Regions from separate parts of the Homo sapiens genome. Here region 1 is linked to region 2. A link means that fine-mapping ties the variant in region 2 to the expression of a gene that starts in the linked region. Tissue or cell type: sun-exposed skin. Region 2 holds a variant in brackets; the other region holds the start of a gene. All regions are shown on one strand. Distances are from middle to middle.

Region 1 (7,650 bases), 65 kb before region 2:
GGCTTTCCTGCGATGAAGACAGCCGCGCAGGACCCACTTGCTGCAGCTGCAGGGGCCCTGGGCTGCCCAGGCATAGGCGCCCACAGGCACTGCAAGCAGCACCACACACAGGACCACTGTGACATGCAGGAGGTGCTCACGTGCCTCTAGCCCACCAGCATCTCTGCCTGTTACAAAAGCTACACACTGGCCCTGGTGTGGAGGCTGGCCCTCTAGGCTGAGGCAGGCCTCATATTTTGTGCCAGGAAGGAGGTCATCCACAGCATAAGTATTGATTCCGGGGCCAATGTGAACCACCTCCTTCCTGAAGGCTTCATCCGATGCAATGTAGAGGGTGAACCACTCCTCCTTAGAGGTGTCAGCCACTGCAAGCCACTCCAGCAAAATCCCATGCACTGTCTGCTTGACAACCCGCAGGTCAATGTAGGCATTGCCCTCCGAGGGGATGGAAAGAGAATCAGGTGCATGTAGGGCCTGGGCAGGCTGGACATGGAGAGAGATTACAAGGTTGCTCTTGCCAATGGAGTTGGAGGCCATGCAGGTGTAATTACCACTGTCTACCAGGTGGGCAGCAGGTATGGCCAGCTCTGACAGAGCAGTGTCTTCTCCAGTAGAAGATGTCAACACTGGGTGGAAAGAAAAACAAAACAGCTGTGCATTTATCTGATAGACTGCTGGAAAGTGTCTAGCAATGCCAGTTTTGTTTTGTTTTGCTTTGTTTTTTGTTATTGTTGTTGTTAGAAGATGGTGGTAACCTCTTATGAACCTCGTACCTGGTGTCAGGTGTTTGCCTCCCAGCAATCCTGTAAGATAAATAACTGATCTTTACACATAGGATATTGAGGATTGGAGCAATCCATCAACTTGCCCGTAGTGAGAGTTGTTCAGAAGCAACAATTGATATGGGACCTGGCTCTTCAATCTATGAAGACCATACTCTTTCAACTTCACTAACTGCACCCACCAAACCACCTTCGCCTTGCTGAGCCATGGCTTTCAGGAGAGTTCTTGCAACTATGTGATTGTACGATATTATGAGCTTCAGGAAGTGCCTTCTTACCTTCCAGATGCACAGTTCCTCAGAGCCTGGAGCCACATGCCTGGGCTGCTATCCCTAATGGAGCTCCTATCCAGTGTGGTACTGGGCAAGTTGCTTAAATTCTCTTGACAATTTTCTTGTCAATAAAATGGGATGATAAGCAATCACCTACCTCATTAGTTTGAAAGTAAGTGTTCAATGCTTATATTTTTACTGAGAGATTATATAACACGTTGCCAAACAGTGATTATAGAACACCACGAAAGACAACACCTGTATGCATTTCTTGGTTTTCAAAGAGGCTACAACAATAAATCCTATAATTTTCTTTCATTGATATTGAATGCCAAACCAATAAGGTATTATCAAAACAATACAGAATGTGAAAATTCAGTTAATTGGGTATTTTTAAACCATCCAGAGTTTTGTCATAATGTATAACAAATACCTGGGCAAATGACTATATTTCCCAAGTTTTACCCAGCTATTCCTAGTTGTCTTCTAGACAGAGAACAGAAGACAGGACACGAGGAATGTACGAAGATTTTTCTTTTCAGCTTTGGGATACCCCCAGGGAGGCCATCCCCGGCTTTGTGATATGCCCAACCCTACAGAGTAGCATTAAAGGTAATCCCAGCTGAGGTATGAAAACAGAGCAGAGGGTTCCAGGAAGGAAGAGGCAGGTTTGAATTCCAGCCCCAGGGCCCACAGAGGTCACTTCCTTTCCCTGGGTCCCAGTATTACAAATTCAAGCCAATAAGGTCTGAACAATTTTATGTCAGTGTTATTTCAAACAAGCACCCCAGGTGATTCTGCTCAGGCAAGTTAAGGAAATAACTAATAGATCATCTCTAAAATCAATCCTAGTAAAAAATTCTAGAATTCTAAAATACATAGTCCAGTGTTTTGCATCTAGAAGATTCCCAAAGACTATATCTGCTCATATAAAATTTTATAATATTTGCATAAGATATTAAATTAGCCCTGAAATATGTGTTTATATATGTGTATATGTTCTGTATGCAAAGAGATCTGTATGCAAACATTTAAAATAATGCCAATAGTGGAACACTACCTTGAAATCTTTTCTGTTCTAGTGAGCATAATTCAGGGCTATCCCAATCTTACTTGCACCCACCCTTCGTGACTGACCCAGCTTTGAATCTCTCTAATGAGGATGGGTTTGCTACAGACCTCTCCATTCCCTCCAGATACACTGAGAGGGTGCATGTGGCTTACCATCAAATTCTCTCCACATACTCAGGGGATAAGTCCATGCAATGGATGGTGAGGGGCTGGCCTGTGCCAAGCATCGCAGGGTCACATTCTGTCCTGCCCGGATGGTGATATTGGCACTGGGGGTTGAGATCTGTGGCTTCATGCAAGCACTAAGCTCAGTTTCATGAAAAAGCTGCCCTGCCTTGGACAGAGGGCCCTGACATATCAGGTAGGAATTCACCAGGATGACTGGGAGGGTAATGGACTTGACAAACTGGACAAGCCCCCTTAGGCGACAGTCACATACCCAGGGGTTGTCATGCAGGGCCACCACCAGGCTGGAGAGAATCTCAGCCCCACAGTCAGGCTGCCGGCATTTCTGGTAGGCTGGCCAGTTCAGGAAGACACTCTTGGATACAACTGTAAGCCTATTGGAGGATAGGTCAAGGTAGGTCAGGCTGACCAAGAATTGAAGAGCCAGCTCAGGGAGTGCATCAATCTTGTTGCGTTTGAGATCCAAGACCCTCAGGAGAGGGGTGGCACGGAACGCTGTCCATGGTACTGAGCAGAGCTTGTTCCCCTCCAGTCTCAGCTCCCTCAGTTCTGGCAGGTGTTCCAGGGCTCCTAGGTGGATCACACTGATATTGTTAAAATTGAGCCAGAGGTATTCCAAGGTGCTCATGTTGATGAAAGACCCTTGGGGCATCTCAAATAAGGGTGAATTTTCAATTCTCACTTGCTTGAACTCTTCAGAAAGGTTCCCAGGGATCTTTCCCAAGGAGACAGATGTGCACTGCAGAGTCCTGTACAAGAAACCAGAACAGCTTTAAGATAAACAACAGGGGACTGAAAAGTGGGGTCAGGCTGATCCTGGCATTAGACATGTGAATCAGAATAAAAATATTATTATTCATTGAAATAAAAGAGTTAGACTCATTTTGGTAAAAATGCACAGTTCAGCAAAGTTCAGTCCCAACTAGAATGAGTCTCATAGAGTTTTGCTGATTTCCTGCCAATTCTAAGCCTGCTTCCACTCCACATCATCCCCAAAGAAAACCCATTCCCCATAACCCTCTAACATCTGGCCAGCAGAGCGCACCTGCCAAAACTCTCCTCTGAGCAAGTGCATCCTGGCAGACAGAAAGGCTGAGCTGCGTGTGTATCCAGAAAGACCAGAACTAACAGGAAGTAATGAAAAACTGAAGCCATATTTCTCTGTAAGAAAATACGTTGTGAGTTTTGAATAAGTATCGCCCCAGCTTCCGAGTGGCAAATCCTATTATTGGTAATCCATGATGATGTAAGTCACACAGCAGCAGGAAAGCCCATGGGAGCTCTGAGGTCTGTTACAGCCCAGACCACAAGTTCAGTCAGAACACACGAAGGGGGATCAATGTCTCTTAACTAGGGTCAGGAAATTCAACATTTGTGTAATTCTTGAGTCTGAAAAGCAAACTCCAAGTCAGATGTCCAATTCCATACAGATTCTACATTTCTTAGAGTCTTAAACAGAAGTCTGAGAAACAAGCAGGCAGTGCTATTCTGAGCACCACTGTTCAGGGGATGTGGCCAGAATCCATCTAATGCTTCATCATTTGCAGTTGATTCCTGAAACCTAGAATTTCCAATCATTTTCTCAAAGTGAAAATAGGTGATGAGTAACAAAGTAATTCTGTGTTCATTCCTATCATTTGTTCTCTTCCCAACACCACGGGTGGTGTAGTCATGCTCCTACTGCATCAAGACAGCTGCTTCTGCAGCTTGGGTCACCAGTTTCAAATACAAGATGGTATTTTCTGATTAAACCAAAAGATTGTTTTCTTGGACTTCACAACCTTTCCTTAATACTGTGCATTTCACTTCATCAAAATGGGCAACCTACATTTTAAAAAGAGATGTATACAATTTTATATGCTTGCTCTTTCACTCTTCATTTATTCCACAAATATTTACTGGTCATTTGCTTTAAGCTATACTCTTGCCCAATGAAAGGAACAGGGTCAAGGGCAAACCTATTATAGACCCTGTCCCAAGGAGTCTTCTCTCTTGTTTGTGCTTCTGAATCTTGAGATCTTTGGAATGTAATTTAATCTCTGTGAGTCTTTTCTGTATCATGAGAATATTAACAAATACCTCATAGTGTTTCCAGGAATTTATTTCTCATTATTTTTTAATTTTTGTATTTTTTCAGAGACAGGGTCTCACTCTGTTGCCCAGGCTGGTCTCAAACTTCTCAGCCTCCCAAGTAACTGGGATTACAGGTGCAAGCCATTGCATCCAGCCATATTTTTAGAAAAGTTTGAGATTATGTTAAATACAACACCTAGCACACAGTTGGTGCCCATTAATCCTCCTCCCACTGACAAACTCTTTAAGATCCGAAAAGTCTACATCTCTATTAACTAGGGCACTTCCAGTTGAATATTGAAATTCCATGAGTTCCTTTAAGACTCATGATATACATTGTACCCTACAAAAGGCCTCAGGAAAGAAAATCCGCTTAGCTAACCAGTGAGGGGGGAAATGGGTCACCAGCTAAGCTGATTACACTCCAGGCTTTCCATCCAAGCCAGAAATATTTGCAGGAGTTTCCAAACAGTCTAACTCTAAAACCTGGGGGGACCACTGTGTTTGTCTAAAGGTAAAAATCCAAAACAAAGAGAGAGCTATCGGCACAAAGTTTGTCATACATATGGCTATGTGCTTCCTAGATCCCCCTTCAAGGTATAAGTGGATGCTCAGCTGCAAGGAGTGCTTGCATGAGGTCACGTCCTTCCCAAAGCAGCCACATCCCACATTCAGTGACTGAGGGTGGTGAGGGCCTGGCCAGTTTGCCCTGATGGGGGAAAACTCTGATGAGCAATTATCACTCCAGAGTCCCCTACCAGCTTTGCTAAGGCTTTGTCAGGCTTGTTTCATGGAAATATGTGATTTAATTCATGACTATTCCAAACCACTAGTGGATTCCTTTCTCTCCCCTTACCCCAAAGGATAAAGATCTTAAGAGTCCTCCATTCCCCCACAATTTCCTCTCTGTCCATCTCATGCCAGCCTTTTCAAATGAATCCAGCTCCATCCAACTTTCAAGAAGTTTGCGGGAAGCTTGTGAAGCACACCCACTGGCATGCTATCTCTAGAATCATCTAGGCCACTTCTCTACTGCCCCCCACTCCTTTCCTGACCCCCTCATTCTCTGGTTTCCTTATTTGGCATATGAACAGAGGGAGTGGCTCTCTTGGAAATTGAGGCAGGAGACCAGGATAATTGAAGTTAGCATGGGTCAAGTTATTTATGTTAAACAACCTGTGGTTCAGTGTAGTCCCTAAACTCAAGAGACCCTAACAACAATGGCAAGAGGGTCTGGAAATATTACAACCCATCTTCCCTCTTGCAGGATGCTTTTCAGAACTAGGGTCTTAAAATTCTCCATAGAGACAGAGTCATGGGGGAGGAATTACTCTGTGTTTGTGAAATGCTTAGATATAAATGGCTGCAGGGAGGCAGCTCCCTGGCTTGTCTTAATAGAATCTTAATAGGAGAGTGTCCTATCTATTCAATTGGAAAATGCCACTCACCTTCCCAATATTAGTAAAACACTGGGCTACCTCAGACAGAGAACAGGGCATCCTATCAGGGAGCAGACACGCTGTACTCCGTTTCTCTGAAGCTAGGACTCTTTCCCACCCCCATCGTCTGCTGCCAGCATGTCTGAGATGCTGCCTCAGCTACCCACGCTCTTAGGTATGCCTGTGGCAGAGACACAAAAGACCTTTCCAAGCCTCCTTGAAATAGGTGGGCTACAAGACTCTTGATCTAGCTAATGAAATGTTACAAGAAATGAGGTTTGAAAAGCCCTAACATGATCTTCCAATTTATCTTTTTCCTTGTTGTGGCAACCACTGACATTCCAAATGGTGGAGTCTTCCCAGCCATGTCCTTGAGTAAATTAGTGAAGCAGAGCCCTCCCTCCTTCTGTATTTCCCAAACTTAAGTAGAGTCTGTGGAACAGGAATACATTTTTCCGTGTTAAGCCATGGAAATTTGGGAATGGTTGCCTAAGCATAAATCTAACCTATCCTAACTACAATGCCCTTGTGAATAAATATGCTCAGGTACTTGTATGTTGATTTTTGCCTTTGTTAGATTATATGATAATTAAGACAAAAATTTCCAGCTCTTGTCCTCTAGACAAACTGCTCACTGAATCCCTCGATTGATAGCCTAGGTTTGATAGCCCACATCCACTTTCCAGAGCACAATTTCTGTATTTGCCTTTTTGTACCCAGCAACTTCAATGGGCAAGTGACCTTGGACATATTCTCTGCTTAATCATGAGGAATAAAACCATGTTGCAGTCATCAAAAGACATCATGAAGATGCTATGATTCCAACCAACCTACAAACCAGGCTTCCAAGGCCAGCTATGCTGCAGCCTCGCCATGGCCCAAATTGGTCTTCAGCATTGGAAGGCCAGAAATTCTTTTGCCAGGATACTCAGAGGGCATTCAATTTTCAGGGACTAACTCATACTCATCAGACTCACATACTAAAAGACTAAGGTAAGCCAGACATCATTTTATTTTTTACAATAAGAATGTGTTTCTTCCCATGACTTGAATATTCATGAGCGTAATCCAGGATGATTCTTCTCTACAAGGGCAAACCAGGGAAGACAGGATACACAAAGGAAGGTTGACAGATGAGTTTTGGGAGGCTTATCATCTTGGAGGCTGTATTAGTCCATTTTCACACTGCTGGTAAACACATACCCAAGACTGGGTAATTTATAAAGAAAAAGAGGTTTAGTGGACTCACAGTTCCACATGGCTGGGCAGACCTCACAATCATGGCAGAAGGCAAGGAGGAGCGAAGGCATGTCTTACATGACATCAGGCAAAAGGATTTGTGCAGGGGTACTTCCATTTATAAAACCATCAAATCTCATGCGACTTATTCATTACCACGAGAACAGTATGGGGGAAACTGCCCCCGTGATTCAATGATCTCCACCTGGCCCCACCCTTGATTCATGGGGGTTATTACAATTCAAGGTGAGATTTGGGTGGGGACACAGTCAAACCATATCAGAGGCCTTTCCATCCAGACCATGAAAATAGGTCCCAATAAACCATTGGATCATTGGCAAGATTGAATTCTCTCTCTCTCTTTCTGTCTCTGTTAACATCAGATAAATACTACAGATTTCTTGCTTTTAAGTTCCTGATTTTTCTTCAAACAAGACTCAATAAAACTGGCTAAATGTTACTTGTCTTTAGGTCAATAACTGTCCCATCATGATTGGTTCAGACCATCATTTAAAGGCAACATCCTGATCACTTCAACAGATGACTGCTTTCATCTACTGCATTTACATTTGTCCTAATTTTGGGGGT
Region 2 (7,650 bases):
TGATTAAACAAACTGTAGTATGTACATACATGGAATAGTATTCAGTAATCAAAAAGAATGAACTATTGATATACACAACAACCTGGATGAATCTCCAGAAACTTATACTGAGAAAAAAATCCCTGTAACAAAAGGTTACATACTGAATGAGTCCATTTATATATCATTTGTGAAATGATAAAATTTTAGAAATGGAAGACAGATTAGGATTTTTCTGGAGTTAGGGATGGAGTAGGGGTGGGAGGAAGGTGGGGGTGACTATAAAAGAATACATAATGAATCCTTGTGCTGTTACAGTTGTTTAGTATCTTTGTTATGATAAAGAATACATGAACCTACACAGATGATAAAATTGTATAGAATTTACACACACAAATGAGGACAAGTAAAATGGAAATCTGCATAAGATCAGTGAATTATATCCATGTTAGTATTCTTGTTGTCATATTATGCTATAACTCTGCAAAATATTACCATTAGAGGAAACTGGGAAAACTATGCAAAGGATCTCTGTATTATTTTTCTTTCTTTCTTTTTTTTTTTTTTTGAGACACAGATTTGCTCTGTCGCCCAGGCTGGAGTGCAATGGTGCGATCTTGGCCCACTGCAACCTCCGCCTCCTGGATTCAGGCCATTCTCCTGCCTCAGCCTCCCAAGTAGCTGGGACTACAGGCATGCACCACCACATTCAGCTAATTTTTGCATTTTTAGTACAGACAGGGTTTGTTTCACCATGTTGGCCAGGCTGGTCTCGAACTCCTGACTTCAAGTGATTCGCCCACCTCAGCCTCCCAAAGTGCTGGGATTACAGACATGAGCCATTGCGCCCTGCCTGGATCTCTGTATTATTTCTTACAGCTGCATGTGAATCTATAATTGTTTTTCCACACATAAATTAATACAATTATATATTTTGTTTCATATAAAAATATAAGTTGACTGGAAAGTGTAGTAGGAGAAGCTCGGGACAGTAGCCATGACCATTTGAGATAAGTGATTATAGTCCTGTTGTTTAAGTTCCTCTAGCACTTCTTGGCTGCTCAGGTAAGGCCTTGAGAGGAAATTATGTGGGGTCATCCAGAGGTGGGGTTTCGTTGATGACCATGAGAAAAGAAAAAAAGAAAAATAAGGTTTAGGGCCATTAAAGTGACAGTGTTGAGAATCTAGTCTGACTGAGGAGGATAATGAAGAGAAAGAGGTGATGCTTTGGATGAAAGCAAGAGTCAACAGACTAGAAATCCTAATGAAGTAAAAACACAGAGTGGGGTAAGTGAGCATGCAAGCTGGTTGGAAAGGAGCAGTCAGGGAGAATGAAATTTTAATTAGACTATGAAGATGGACCATCTTGGAGGGGACATAAGGTCAAGGATGACTATGCAAGTCATGGGTGAGGTGGAGTGGACAAGGAGTTCACTGGTAATAAGGAGGTCAAGGAAACAAGAGTCGCAGATATTGGATGCTGAAGTCATCAGATTTATGGACAGCTGATAGAGCGAAGAGCAGGACCTTGCACCAGGAACCTAATGCTTTAGCCTGTGAAGTGATGTGGTGGCTTAGTAACATGTCAGCTTGGCTAGGTGGAAGCAGATTTCCTAGAATCCCTTTCCTGTTTGTTTTCAGTTAGGCTTGGCCACAAGAGACAAATTGCAAGGCATGGAGACATTTTTCTAACACTTGAAAATTCTATGCAAGAGCACCAGGCAGCTCAGTCACCTTGTCACTTATCTACTGGGTCACCTTGTTGGCATGGGATGCCAGCCAGGCTTGCAGCTGCTCCATCCTCCCCTGAATTTGTACTTCAGCTTCTCCACTCATGGGTAAGTTATGTGTTTATCTGCTTTTCTTACAAGACACCGTATATTTAAAATTGGAGGCAGTGCAATACTAACATGGGTTCCAGTCCTTCTGTGTTCATTTCAGCTCATGCTTGTCATCTCCAGCTTGTCCTTGCTCTCTACCACTTTGCAATCATCTTCCCTTCCCTTCCCAGCCTGCCCTGAGGACTTCATGGTTCAGCATCAGATATGAAGACGACAGCCCTATAGAGACTATTTAACCAGCTTCTAAGGTGGTTAAATATCTTACCAGCCTATGTAAGGCCGAATCCTACTAACAAAGCACTGGTATATGTAATATCCCAGTGGTTTGCTTCTCTAATTGAACCCTGACTACTACAGGTAAGAATTTTGACAAGAATATATTAATTCTTCTAGGATGAAGAAAGGGAAACTCACTTCAGGTCAATAGAGATTGTCATTTGGGACCCCTTCAAGACAACCAATTATATGACTGTCTCTAAAATATTGCTATCCAGCCCCCATTCCTCACTTTTGTCCTACTGGTAATAAGACATTCATCGTGTATCTTTCAGAAGTCCAGATACCACAGTCTGAGTAGTTCTTTAATCTGCTTATCTGGTGATTCCATCACAAATGGTTCAGGTAAGTCTGGCATGCCTTGGGCTTGGTGTGATTTTCTACACAAAACACAGATTATAGGTGGACCTGACAATTAATCTAATTAATAAGAAATGCTACATTCAAAGCATTTTATCCCAGACTCAGCTATCTCAGTTATAAGAAACATATGTTTTCTATTTGAGAACCCTTGGATTTATGCACATTCAATTTGGAGGTTAGAAGGAATAAGGATGAGAGTTCGTAGTGTCTGCTTTATCCAAGCCTTTTTACAAGGTGAAGATGTGTTAACTAGTTACTATTTTGAGCTCTTCATACTAAAGTTTTGAGTGAAAAACACAATCTGCTAAGTCAAGGCAACAATATTTTTCTTTTTTTGAACTTACTGCACCATTTAAATTATGAAGAAATCAAATGTTAATAATCATAAACACTTTGTGTTGTAAAACGGCTTTCCCCTCTCTTTCCTTCACTGTACACTGTACTAAAATGTTTCAGATACTTCCAGAGACAACTGCCTTTAGAGGAGTCATACACATTCTCCTTCAGCCTGGACACTAACTCAGTAAGCAGCAGCTTCAGAATAATGCACCTGTGATCAGGCCAATTGGGATAGAGGCATCATCTGCCCTTATCTTCTCAGAGCCAAAGAAACTAACTTAATTTTCCGTATCAGCTTCATTTTCCCCTTTACTCAATGCCCAGAGATTAATTCTTGGTTTCAGCCCCACCCCATGAAAAGGATGTCTATTCAATCAGAGAGACACAAAGATGGCTTGTGCAAACCAAGCAAAAAAGACACAAGAGGAATTTATTCTGGTTAATAAGCTGAGAGCAAACATGTAGAGGCTAATTGTATGGTGAGTACAAGAAGAGTTTCTTATCTGGGGAGTGTATAATGTTGGGGTAGACACTGTCATTTGTTTTCTTATCCAATAGCCATCATTCTTCATTGCTTAGAAAAAAAAACTTTGTGCTACAGCTGTCAGGCAAGTGGCATGGGATTTAGGAGAAAATTATTTGCTGTCAGCCCTGAAGGATGAAGGAATCACAATTTCTCTGTACAATCATGGTAGTCAGCTTTCAAGATTCCTCCAATGATTCTCATCTCCTGCTATTCATGCCCTTGTGTAGTTATCTCTTGCACAGAATAGGGCTGATGTGTGACCAGTAGGATATTATGGAAATGGCAGAATTTGATGTTCATAAAAGATGTTGCAGCTTTTACCTCGCTCTCTCAGATTATTCACCCTGGAGAAGGCTGTTGTTTATCTTTTCACATTGTGAAAACATTCAAGTGGCCCTCTGTGAAGTCCATGTGATTGGGACTTGAGGCTTCCTGACAATAGCCACCACGAATTTGCCGACCATGTGAGTGGCACAACTTTGTTCAGGTGACTGGAGGCCCAGCTGGCATTTTGCCTGCTATTTCATAAGAGACTCCAAGCCAGAACCATCCAACAGAGCCAACTAAGTCTCTTCCAAATTCCTGGCCCAAAGAAACTCTGAGAGATAATACATATTTATTGTTATTTAAGCCACTGAATTTCAGAGTAATTTGTTATGCAGAAATAAATAACACCAATTGTGTTGAATCCCATTTCTCTCTCATGGTATATATGTAGTCAGAAAACCATAGACTAAAATCCACAGGCATATATGATAGTCCTTGACATTACCCATGTCTTAGTTTAATAATCCTGGCTAGTTAAGTACTGCTAATCCATATCTCCAGAAAAATTTAGAAAGCCCTGATTTGCAGTGTTTACCTAGTTGTGTGGTGCAAATATTCCCACTGGTTGACATCATGCTACCAACACAGAGTTGGGAAGAAATGCACACAATTGGTTCTTGCAAGCTCATATGAGCCCCAACGCACCACTGAATTGAGCTCAGAAGAAATAGATTGGGTCAAGTAATCATACTGAC[C/G]TCTGCCTGTTTGGCCAGAAGGATCTTCAGAGGTAGTGTAATGTTTTGACAATAGCTTTAGGACCAAATGACCAGGAACATAATTTTGCCTATGCTGTTTTCTGGCTGAGTGACCTCAATAGGTACTGCTTATTGGCAATAAGTGTCAGATTCTTCATCTGTAAAATGAGGATGGCAATTTCTGCTCATCAGAGATTTGAGAGAATTAAGTGAAAATAACAATAGCAAAAACAACAGTTATAAGTACTTACTATATATCAGGCCAGAGTTGCTTATAAGATATCATTACTTAATTTAATAATACAGGCAAAGCAGTAGGGACTAAATGAATGCTAACTATCAGCATTGTTATTACATTTCTGAGCAGGGAGCTGTTCATTAGAATGAACACTGAATCAGAAATTGTTGGAACTGACCTGTCTCCTATTTTCCAACCTCAATTCTTCGTCTTCCTAAGTTGGGCAAAAGGCTCCAGTGAAGAGCTGTGAGGCTTATGTATGGGGACTCACCAGGGGCCAGCCCAGGCTGCCCACAAGACCATGAGCCACCCTGTGACTGAATGAAGTGGAGAGAAGGGAAAGTAGTTAAGAAATCAAGAAAAGTGTCTTTCAGCACCATGGCCAGAAGTTGTGCCACAGAATTGGAACAGGGAAACCCAGAGAGCCAGTGCTGTCCTAGTCCTAGTGCTGAATGATCCCATTGGTGTCCTTAGAAGGGCTCTGACTTCAGCCCACCAGCAGCATGTGGACTTATAAGCTTTCTAGCAGAGTTGGAGATCCCCAGGAAAAAGAAATCTCTTAAAATGAAATGAAACTTCAATCAACCAAGGCTTTCTAGCCTGATGTGAGTTGTCTTTACACACATATACCTTTTTAACAAAGAAGAAGAAAAGAATGGACATTGATAGAACTTGCATTCTGTGTTCATCACCAGGATAGTTGCTTTATAAATATCATTTTGTTTTTAGTCACAACCCAATGCAGCATTTTCCTTACTGACAAAGAACCTGAGGCATGGAGAATTTAAGCAACTCCCTGAAGGCCACCCAGCTAATCAGCAGTGGGAAAAGAATTTAATTCTAGATCTTTCATTCTAAAGCCCAGCTCCTTACACACGTTGGATGCTACTATTTCCAAAATGTCAACAACACTTTGGACTATCAACCTGTCTAAAGAGTATTTGAAGCAGGTAATACAAATTGTTTTCTAATTTATTATGGTCAGTTCTCTTCTTTGAATCCAGGTGATGCTGATGTCTTCATACCTCCTCTTCACCCTTCAGAAGAGGTCCTCTTGCTTCTAGAAAGAGAATACAAATAGCTACATTCCTACTCAGTGGGAGAAAGTGAGACTGTTCCAGAAGATGAGGACTTAGGCTGGTAATGTCCTGAGGAAATGACTATGCCAACCTAGAGATCCCCTTGTGTGTGGTAAGGTCCCCAATGAACAGAATGGGGCCCTCACCTAACCACATCTCAGGCCTGGCTTCAAGATGGGTTTCAAACCAGAAAGTAATCATATCGGATGATTACTACATACTACATACATTGCCATCCTCATTTTATAGATGAAGAATCTGACTCTTATTGCCAATAAGCAGTGCATGTTGAGGTCACTCAGCCAGGAAATAGCAGAGGCAAATTTAGGCTCCTGGTCATTTGGTCCTAAAGCTACTGTCAGTAATCTCAGTATGCCTGAGATGTGGTCAGGTCAGCATACTTTAGAATGAACTTTTATGCTAAGATAATAACATGGTGGTTAAGTATTGACTCAGATTGCCTACATTTGCATTAAGTTTTCACTGTGCTAAACTTAAGTTTTCAGCTGTGTTATTTGGGGGCACTAACTCCATAAGCCTCAGGTTTTTTTTTTCTGTTTTTGTTTTTGTTTTGAGATGGCGTCTCGCTCTGTTGCCCAGGCTGGAGTGCAGTGGTGCAATCTCAGCTCACTGCAACTTCTGCCTCCCAGGTTCAAGCAATTCCCTGCCTCAGCCTCCCGAGTAGCTGGGATTACAGGCGCCTGCCACCATGCCTGGCTAATTTTTGTATTTTTAGTAGAGAGGGGGTTTCACTATGTTGGCCAGGCTGGTCTTGAACTCCTGACCTCATGATACACCTGCCTCGGCCTCCTAAAGTGCTGGGATTACAGGGGTGAGCCACTGTGCCCGGTGGGTTTTGTAGCTTTAAAATGGGAACTATAAGGTTGTTTACATGCAATTATGTATGTCATGTGCTTTCCCTAAGGAAATTATTCAACAAACTTTAGGTAGTTTTATTATTATTATTATTTCTGTGCAGTGATGCAGGCCTCTGAAGGAAAAGGTGCACATTTTCAACAATAAAAGAGAGACATTCCTTTAGTGTATCTCCACATTCCCTGAAGGGGAGCTGGAATGACATGACGGACTTGGCCTCAGGGCCCCAAGCCTTCCCTGTTGCAGTCTTCATGACACTCCTCAGAAGCAGCAACTCCAGCCATGTCTGGAACCATTCCTTACCAGACAGGAGGATATCATGGCCTCAACTCATGATCTGTACCAAGCCAAACCTCTTTTGGGGTACCCACCAAGCCTCAGGCCTCACCTTCTCTGCCCTGTTGTCCCTGCCCATCTGTCCTGGTTTTCTACTAGTTTCCACTACTGGACACTTGTCTGAGGCTGGGTCCCCACCTGGATCTTGTGGCCTCTTGCCCAGGGCTTGGAGGGAAGCTGCTCCCACACTTGAAGATGACAGCTGAGCATGGTCCTTTGTGGGCGTGCTGTCAGGAAGATGACAGTGCAATCTGTTTAATGTGCCAGTTGTCTCTGTGAGTCCCTCATCCGGATGAGCACTTGTCACACCCCTGCAGAGCCCCAGCTGGTTCTTAGAGAGGTGCTCCAGCTCTGTGATTACCTAATCTGGCTTCCCAATCTATCCCACAATGTGTCATTGCTGAGGTCCCTGTGGGTCTTGCAGATAAACTTGCTACAGTCATCCTACACAAAAAAGAAGCTCGTTATCATGAAACCGGCCTGCTTTTTAGCTCCTGGGCCCTAACTCACCCCAGATTGCTGCCAGCTCTTTTGTTTTCCCACTTAGACCAAAGGGATTGAGAAGCTTTCCCATTCCTTGGAGCTGCCACCCTCCATTCTAAGGCAGTCTCCCCCTTCACCCTGCTTGCTGCACCCCAGATGCTGCAAGGCCCATGTGCTGTTTTTGACTTCAGTACTTCAGATTGCTGTGGGAACACAGGAGGCAGCAGCCAGATGAGAAATTGAGTCTGACTCTGGAGTATTATAAAGTCCTTATAGTTACTGGCATTAGGTA

Evidence for each region. PIP is the estimated chance that this variant, and not a neighbour inherited with it, causes the effect.
Region 1: it holds the start of LRIT2, and the variant in region 2 is the best candidate, but not a certain one, in a credible set for the expression of LRIT2 in sun-exposed skin (GTEx, PIP 0.52).

Annotation. Positions count from the first base shown.
Region 1 is chr10:84,222,055-84,229,704 of GRCh38, forward strand. It overlaps LRIT2 (leucine rich repeat, Ig-like and transmembrane domains 2), which reads right to left and starts at 3,490. Exons shown (of 3, transcript NM_001017924.5): 1 at 3,357-3,490; 2 at 2,279-3,060; 3 at 1-626. The coding sequence starts at 3,466.
Region 2 is chr10:84,286,604-84,294,253 of GRCh38, forward strand. It overlaps LINC00858 (long intergenic non-protein coding RNA 858), which reads left to right. Exons shown (of 6, transcript NR_038220.1): 2 at 1,621-1,817; 3 at 1,991-2,177; 4 at 2,372-2,441; 5 at 4,804-5,534; 6 at 6,643-7,650. Among named protein-coding and RNA genes, the nearest start is that of LINC00858, 10 kb to the left of the region's middle. The variant C/G (reference allele first, on the strand shown) is at 4,347.